Homo sapiens: one gene and its partner. The protein of the gene in region 1 interacts with the protein of each later gene in a pairwise test. Each region holds a gene or a part of one and is shown on either strand. Other genes may lie near its edges.

Region 1 (3,790 bases):
TTTCAAGGGGAAAAAACCTGAGAAGAAAGGGAGAAAAGACCATGAAATTTACCAGATAACACTTTTTAAGACTAAGTCCTGAGCTGCCACTCTCAGCAGTTTTTGCTGCTTCAGCTCTTCCTTTTTATTACCTTTTTCAATTCAACAAGCAACTTTCTGCTACATACTTACTCCGGTTGGGTGCTGACTTCAGGGACAGGAAAAAGCAAGGTTTGCAAAGAGTGAAACTAGTGTATATTCCGTATCTTGGTAGTTCGTTTCTGGATTGGGTTTAGTTTCAGAACTGGACTTGTTCCTTCACTGCCACAGAATCAGAAAGAGCTAGAAGAAAAGGCTCACCTGGCCACTGTTTAGGCACCCAGACATAATTTATGGACGAAATGCCTAAAAATGTGCCAGGCATGCTCTGTTTGAGAGGCTTTTTCTAACCCCAAATCTTAGATCTGCCAGGTAGTTCAACATCTTCCAAGTGTGCTGGTTCTGCTTTCCAATGCCTGCTTCCCAATTTTGGATCCATGAGCTATACAGCTGCATGCTTTGACTGCCGGAAAAATTAATCTTGCTTCTTCATCAGGTCTTTCTCCTGTACTTGTGATCAGAAATTACCTTTGACGTGCAGTGACAGTTGATTTCCTCTTGAACTGCCGGTGAAAACAGTCTAGTACACAGGTGCTGTCAGCCCAGGGTGGGAGCAGGAAATGATTGCTGAGCCCGGGGCAGGGGAATTGCATCTGCAGGAAAGAGATGCAGCATGCTCCTCACTCCTGAGTGCCCACCTGTCCTGCTTCTCTGCAGGTGAAAACTCTGGGGGATGCTGATCAATAGAGCTTGGTCCCAAGCTCTACTGGGCCCTTGGAGGTAGCAAGGCCACTGGGTTGCTATCCTCTTGCTGGGGATAGCAACCACTGGTTTGCAACCACTGGGTTGCTATCCTTTTGCTATCCTCTTGCTCATGACCAGCCATATGGTGAGGCTGGGGAGTTCACATCCTCAGGCAGGAACTAGCAGTTGTTTATCCAGCAATGCCTCAAGGATGTTGCATTGCTCCCAGGAACTGGCTATTAGGTATGTCTTGTGCGGTCAGTCAGCATCACAGACACATAGATGCTCACCAGCCTGGCTTAGCTGGGACCTAAATCTTCTGGTGAAAAGCTTTTCACTAAGTGAGGTTCCTTCCCTGCAAATGCTGAATCTAGCCTAATTCGCAACCACACAGAATTTCATGGCTTTCAAAGGCTTGCCATGTGCCCCATCTCATTCTATACTCACATCCCATGGAGGTGAGGATTTTCACTTCTTTTCTCTAGACTTGGAAGCTGAGATTCAGAGAGGAAGCATCCCTTGTGCAAGATCACATAGTCAGGAGGTGACACAGGGCTAAGACTTGAACCAAGGCTCTAAGAGGATTTCTTCTTTTCAGAGTCTCTTCCCTGTCCATTTCTGTGACTAAGCTGTGCAGAGGTTGACAGCAGGGCAAGTTACATTGATATTCATCCTTTATAGGCTTCCTGCTAAAAAGCTTCTGAGATTGTGGTCTTCCAAAAAAAATAGGAGCTTGGTTGAAGTCCCCACATTTTCAAGCACTCAGTGTTCTGCCTCTGGCAGCTGTGCTAACAGCTCAGTGCTGTCCTGGGAGTCCTCTGACTCAGAACCCTCGAAGCATCCTGCATTGTCTTTACCCACCATCATCTTCACTAAGAGAAACATGCCTACCCATGAAGGCGTGTTTGATTACTCCAGGCTTCTGGACACACATACCCATGGGTGATTTTTGCTCCTCAGGCCCAATATTCTCAGACAGCCCAGCAGTGTGAACACACAATGCCAGGCCAGGAACTGGGACCACCATCTTGCTGATGGAAGGAACAACAGGTGGCCCAGGACATGCTCCTGCATACTCCTGGGTGTCCCAGGGACTGTGTGCTCAGGAGCACTGTGGTAGAGCACTGGCCCTGCCTTGAGAAGAGACACAGGTCTCCCGTCCCTGCACCAGCTGAGAGAGACTTGCCGCAAAGCACAAGGCTGGCAGAGATTTATGTATGACTTGCACAGACACAAAAATATACAGACAATCAAAACATTGATATATTCAAACTCTCCTTTAAATTCCAATCTTATTGCAACAACTCTGTGAATTGCAAGGTCCCAGAATCTGCCTTCTCACATACTCTACCCTCATTCATCCTTTTGGGCTAATTGATGAGCATCTTATTTCTTATCTCTAAAAATTATCAGCAAAGGCTACTTCAGATGGCCACTTTAGTCCTTTCAGCTGTAGTCAGGATTATTTAACTTACCTGTATATCAAAAGTGAAGAAAAAGTTAGTTCATAAGTAAAGGCACTAAATCCTTTCCTGACAATGGCAGAGTCTCTAGAGGTAGAAATTTGCCTTGCTGCAGAGAGAGAAGGAATGGCGTGGGATGGGGGAAAGAAAAGAAAGAGAAGAAGCTGGGGTCTCCAGGCAGGGTAGTAAGCTGACACTAAATATTTTTTACACAAAAATGTATTGAAGCAACAAATATTTCCTGAAGATCCACCCTGGGTGAGGCTTTGAGCTGACTTTAGAGATCACTGTGGGGTCAAGAATGTCTTACATGTTTTATTCATCATTCTTGAAAAAAGAAATAATTCAAACCTTGGAATTAAAAAGTCAGAAAAATATGGGATTTTCTTTCTGGAATTTTCGAGGTTTTCTTTTTACCTTTGCCAGAGTGTGGGGGCAGGACTGGGCCTGCCAGGGTGTATAGCCCTTCCTGCTTGGTGGAGGCCAGTCAGGCCCAGGGCCTTCTAAGCAGCAGTAGAAAGGAGGCTTGGGGAAGTGGGGGGTCTGGGTAGCAGGGGAAGGAGGCCAGTTCCAGTGTAGCCCCCTATCCCCTCCAGATGTGCTGCTTCTGGCTGTGCACTCAGTGACTGCCCTCACTGCTCAACCCTGTGCTGTGTGGTGTGTTTCTTTCCCCACTGACAGTGAATAAAAGGTGCAACTGTGCTGAGGGCTCCTGCTCTTCCCTACACTGGGACAGGATTGGGGTGGGGAGAAAGGGACAGAAGAGGCCTGGGGAGGCTCACTCAGTGAAGGGCCAAGGTCCTTGTTCTAGCAAGGACTCTGGGAACATGGCATGAGACTCACTTGAGCTAGTTCAAAGAAATGGGGGAGCAGATTATAAGGGACTCTGAAGATGGAAAATCAAGAATGACTGAACCTCAGGCCAAGCGCAGAGGCTCACACCTGTAATCCCAGTACTTTGGGAGGCCAAGGGGCAGATCACAAGGTCGAGATCGAGACCATCCTGGCCAACATACTAATAATACAAAAATTAGCTGGGCATGGTGGTGCACGCCTATAGTCCCAGCTATTCGGGAGGCTGAGGCAGGAAAATTGCTTGAACCCAGGAGGCTGAGGTTGCAGTGAGCAGCGGAGGTTGCAGTGAGCCGAGATCGCACCACTGCACTCCAGCCTGGTGACAGAGCAAGACTCCATCTCAAAAAAAATAAAAAAATAAAAATAAAAATAAAATAAAAACTGGCTGAACCTCAAGAGAACTGGAACTGGCAACTGGGCCTCTTCCTTACCATCTCTGGGTCTTGCAGGCTCTTGTTCCCTGGGCAGTATTTGCATCCATGCTCTTTTCCTGGGCTTCTCTTCAGACTTCTTTGGTTTTGTTGCACACAGTGGCTGAATCTCCAACTCGGTATCAAGACTCACCAGTGACTGACAACTCCCCTCTGTGCCTCTTAGTTTCAATTCACAAGCAAAAGGATCTGATTGGTTTGGCTTAGCTTTTGGCGGGA
Region 2 (3,752 bases), on another chromosome or scaffold:
AGTCTATGCATAAGGGATTGCTCATAAAAGAACTTGTTATATTTTCTCTCTTGAATGTGCATGACTGTGACATACTGTATTTTGCCATTGTTAAACTCAGTTTAATAGAATAAATATTCAAATAAGAATTGACTATACCAATATTCCAGTAGAGAAGGAATAAGCTGATAGACGTGTCTTTGAGTTCTGTCAGGCAAGACTTAACCAAATCTTGACACACGGTTAAAATTGGTTGTTAATGAAAGGTAACTAGATAAAATAGGTATATATTTGCTTAAGAACATTTTAAAAATATTTCTTTTTTTAGATTTGGAATTCACAATAGGTTTCTTCCGTTCCTCCTTTGTAAATTATGAAATATTTATTGTTTAGACTGAGTAATATGACATGAAACAACAAACCTGCACATTTCTAATTTATAACAAATCTGTTTCCTTAATGGGTGGAAGGAAATCTGAGGACAGTTCTAAGGAGTCTTGTCTGCTTTCAGTGCGATCTTCTAGTCATACTGAAGACAATACCTCTCCAGATTGGTCTTTCCCCTTCTTCTCCTCTCCCCGGTCAACGTCAATCACATGCACCACTCCAGGTTTTAGAATCAGGTCATCCGTCTCTACCTGACTCCTGTTGTCCTCCACCTCCATGTAGCTTCCTTTTGTTTGCTGGGCAGCTTTGCTGAAGGCTTCTTTAAAACGACGTTTGAATTCAACATCTGGACAGAAGACATACTCATAAAGGCCACCAGCGAGGACAGCTCCTATGATGGGCCCAACCCAATATATCTAAGGAAAAGATGGAAGAGGATAGAGTGTAAGTAGAGAAAAGCTATTCCATTGAGCAGCTCATGAATGTAGAATCTAGCTGGGTTAAATTAAGAGTGTATTTGTGTCATGCATCAAAAAGAGGGGAATTGGAGAGGAAATAAGAAAACACACCAAAGCCTCATCAGAGATCCATAAATTATTAAACTGCATTTGAACAGAAAACAAAAAGAACTGTTTCATCTCCTATCCTCTTTTCATTAATTATGTTCTTTCCATCTTATGATAATCGTTAATGTAAAGATAGATCCTCTTTGGTGGTACTACAAATTAAGCGCACTAAGAATTCTTTAACTAAAATAAAAAAAAAATTTCTGGAGAGTCCTTCTCTTATTTTCTCAATATTGCCATTTTACACTGGTTTCCTGCACAATCATGATCATAACACAGTTTTTATCTTTTGGGGATTCCGTTATTCAGGTAAGCATGATCAAAACCAACCCAGCTCCACCACTTAGCAGAGTTATGAGTGCTTGTATCAGTTACGTAACTTTCCAAGTCTTAATTTCCTCATCTGTAAAGTGGGGATTATAATAATACAAACCTCACGGGGTAAAAGGATTAAATGCAACAATACTTGTAAAGTACTTGATAGTTTTTAGCTCGTAGTAATCTGCTCCATTCCAGGCTTCCAAAATTTGGTGATTTGATTTAAATGAAAACCTCGTGTTCATTACTGTGCAGATAGCTTTCATCTATGCGGTTCTCACGATGGCTTGGTGAAAAAATATGAGTTTATGGCTAGTTGAGAAGTAGCAATTCCATAGGATTTCAATAAATGGAAATTATTATTATTATTATTATTATTATTAATTTTGAGACGGAGTCTTGCTCTGTCACCTAGGCTGGAGTGCAGTGGGCGATCGCCACTCACTGCAAGCTCTGCCTCCCGGGTTCACGCCATTCTCCTGCCTCAGCCTCCTGAGTAGCTGGGACTACAGGTGCCCGCCACCACGCCTGGCTAATTTTTTGTATTTTTAGTAGAGATGGGGTTTCACTGTGTTAGCCAGGATGGTCTCAATCTCCTGACCTCGTGATCCACCTGCCTCAGCCTCCCAAAGTGCTGGGATTACAGGTGTGAGCCACCGTGCCCAGCCGGAAATTATTATTACATATTAGCTATGCCCCTAGAATAAAGTTTTGAGTTTGAATGAAGTGCAGACATTTGCTTTAGAGCACATGTGTGCTGTAGAATATTAGACATTTATTTAACAGACGCACTTGGGCAACAGAAACCCTGCTTGTTGAGCACTGTCCCCGGGCCAGCCGTACTTGGCACTTTTCTTGTATAATCTCATTTAATTCTAACAATAACCAATGAGATAAATATTATTATTCTTCCCATTTTATGAAAAGAAGAGTGACACTCTGAGAGGGTAATAAGCTTGCTTAAGATTTTGTGCTTATCAAATGGTTGAGCTGAGATTTCAGACCTGTCTGACTTCAAACCTCTCATTTGAGGCTGGGCACAGTGGCTCACACCTGTAATCCCAGCACTTTAAGAGGCCAAGGTGGGTGGATTGCTTGAGCCCAGGAGTTCGATTCAGCCTGAGCAACATGGTGAAACCCTGTCTCTACAAAATACAAAAAAAAATTAGCTGGGCTTGGTGGTGTGCACCTGTAGTCCCAGCTACTTGGGAGGCTGAGATAGGAGGATCACTTGAGCCCAGGGAGGTCTCGGCTGCAGTGAGCCATGATCGTGACACTCTACTCCAGCCTGGGCAACAGAGTAAGACCCTGTCTCAAAAAAAAGAAAAAAACAAACAAACAAAATGAAAACCTCTCTTTTGAAACACTGTTCCAAACACTGCAGTATACTGTTTTCCACTGTACTACACACTCATTTGAAAAAAAACATGATGGATGCTTTTTGTTTAAAACACCCTCTGCAAATTAATCTCAGTTTGCATCCTCATTGTAAGATTTAAATAAAATTCAAAATTTAAGCTGAGGCTGAAGACATAACATTTACGGGGAAACTGTTGCTAGTGTGGCTGGAAGAATCAAGTTCCTCTCTTGAACATGAAAAAACCCATATGAGCCTTTATCTTCTCTATGCCCTTTTAAAGGAGAAATGAGAGCCCTCCTCTAAATGTCTTTGCTCTTTGTTAGTAAGGTCTCATTAGACATGTACTATTCCACAGGCTACAAATCCCACAAGGGAGACTAGAACAGCAAAATAATTACTACCCTTTCCAAAACATCTGTGAATAAGATACCCAGCTGCATGTTCTCAAAAATAAACAAATCTCAGTGTCAAGTTGCTATTTCAAAATGAAGTCATATGTACTTTAAAGTAAAGAATCTTTATTGCTAAAAATCTAGAAAATGTGTAAAAGTATAAAGAAAACTAAAATAATATCATTACACTATACAAAAAACCCAATTAATATTTTAATGTTATTCCTAATCTTTCTACCTACAAATATACTTTAAATTAGTTCTAAATTTCATACAACCATTGCTATTTTTAGTAGAATTAAGATTGGTATAATATAACATGGGGCAACTTTTAGTTTAATCAACAAGCTAAGAATGTTCCTACTATTTAAATCTTAACTAGTTTACTGCAACTGACAAGTAATTAGTAAAATATATTTTTTCATCTACATTTTCAAGTGCTTATAAATTTAACTAAAAGTTGTTAATGACAAAATAGTTTCAATTTAATATGTTGAACTGAAAGTTGTATTTTCATTGTAAGATCAGGGCTGGGCACTGTGGCTCACGCCTGTAATCCCAGCACTTTGGGAGGCTGAGGCAGGTGGATCACCTAAGGTCAGGAGTTCGAGACTAGCCTGGCCAACATGGTGAAACCCTGTCTCTATGAAAAAATACAAAAATTAGCTGAGTGTGGTGGCATGCACCTGTAATCCCAGCTACTCGGGAGGCTGAGGTTGGAGAATCTCTTCAACCCAGGAGAAGGAGGTT

The links. The genes of interacting proteins can lie anywhere in the genome.
Region 2: the proteins of HPCAL4 (region 1) and AQP4 interact in binary tests that used the Homo sapiens proteins (3 or more experiments, as listed by UniProt).

Annotation. Positions count from the first base shown.
Region 1 is NC_000001.11:39,677,845-39,681,634, reverse strand, and holds the end of HPCAL4 (hippocalcin-like protein 4), read left to right. Parts: 3' UTR 1-2,987; downstream 2,988-3,790. UniProt on the Homo sapiens protein: May be involved in the calcium-dependent regulation of rhodopsin phosphorylation.
Region 2 is NC_000018.10:26,855,708-26,859,459, forward strand, and holds part of AQP4 (aquaporin-4), read right to left. Parts: intron 783-3,752; coding exon 504-782; coding exon of another isoform or gene 417-503; 3' UTR 1-416. UniProt on the Homo sapiens protein: Forms a water-specific channel. Plays an important role in brain water homeostasis. It is involved in glymphatic solute transport and is required for a normal rate of water exchange across the blood brain interface.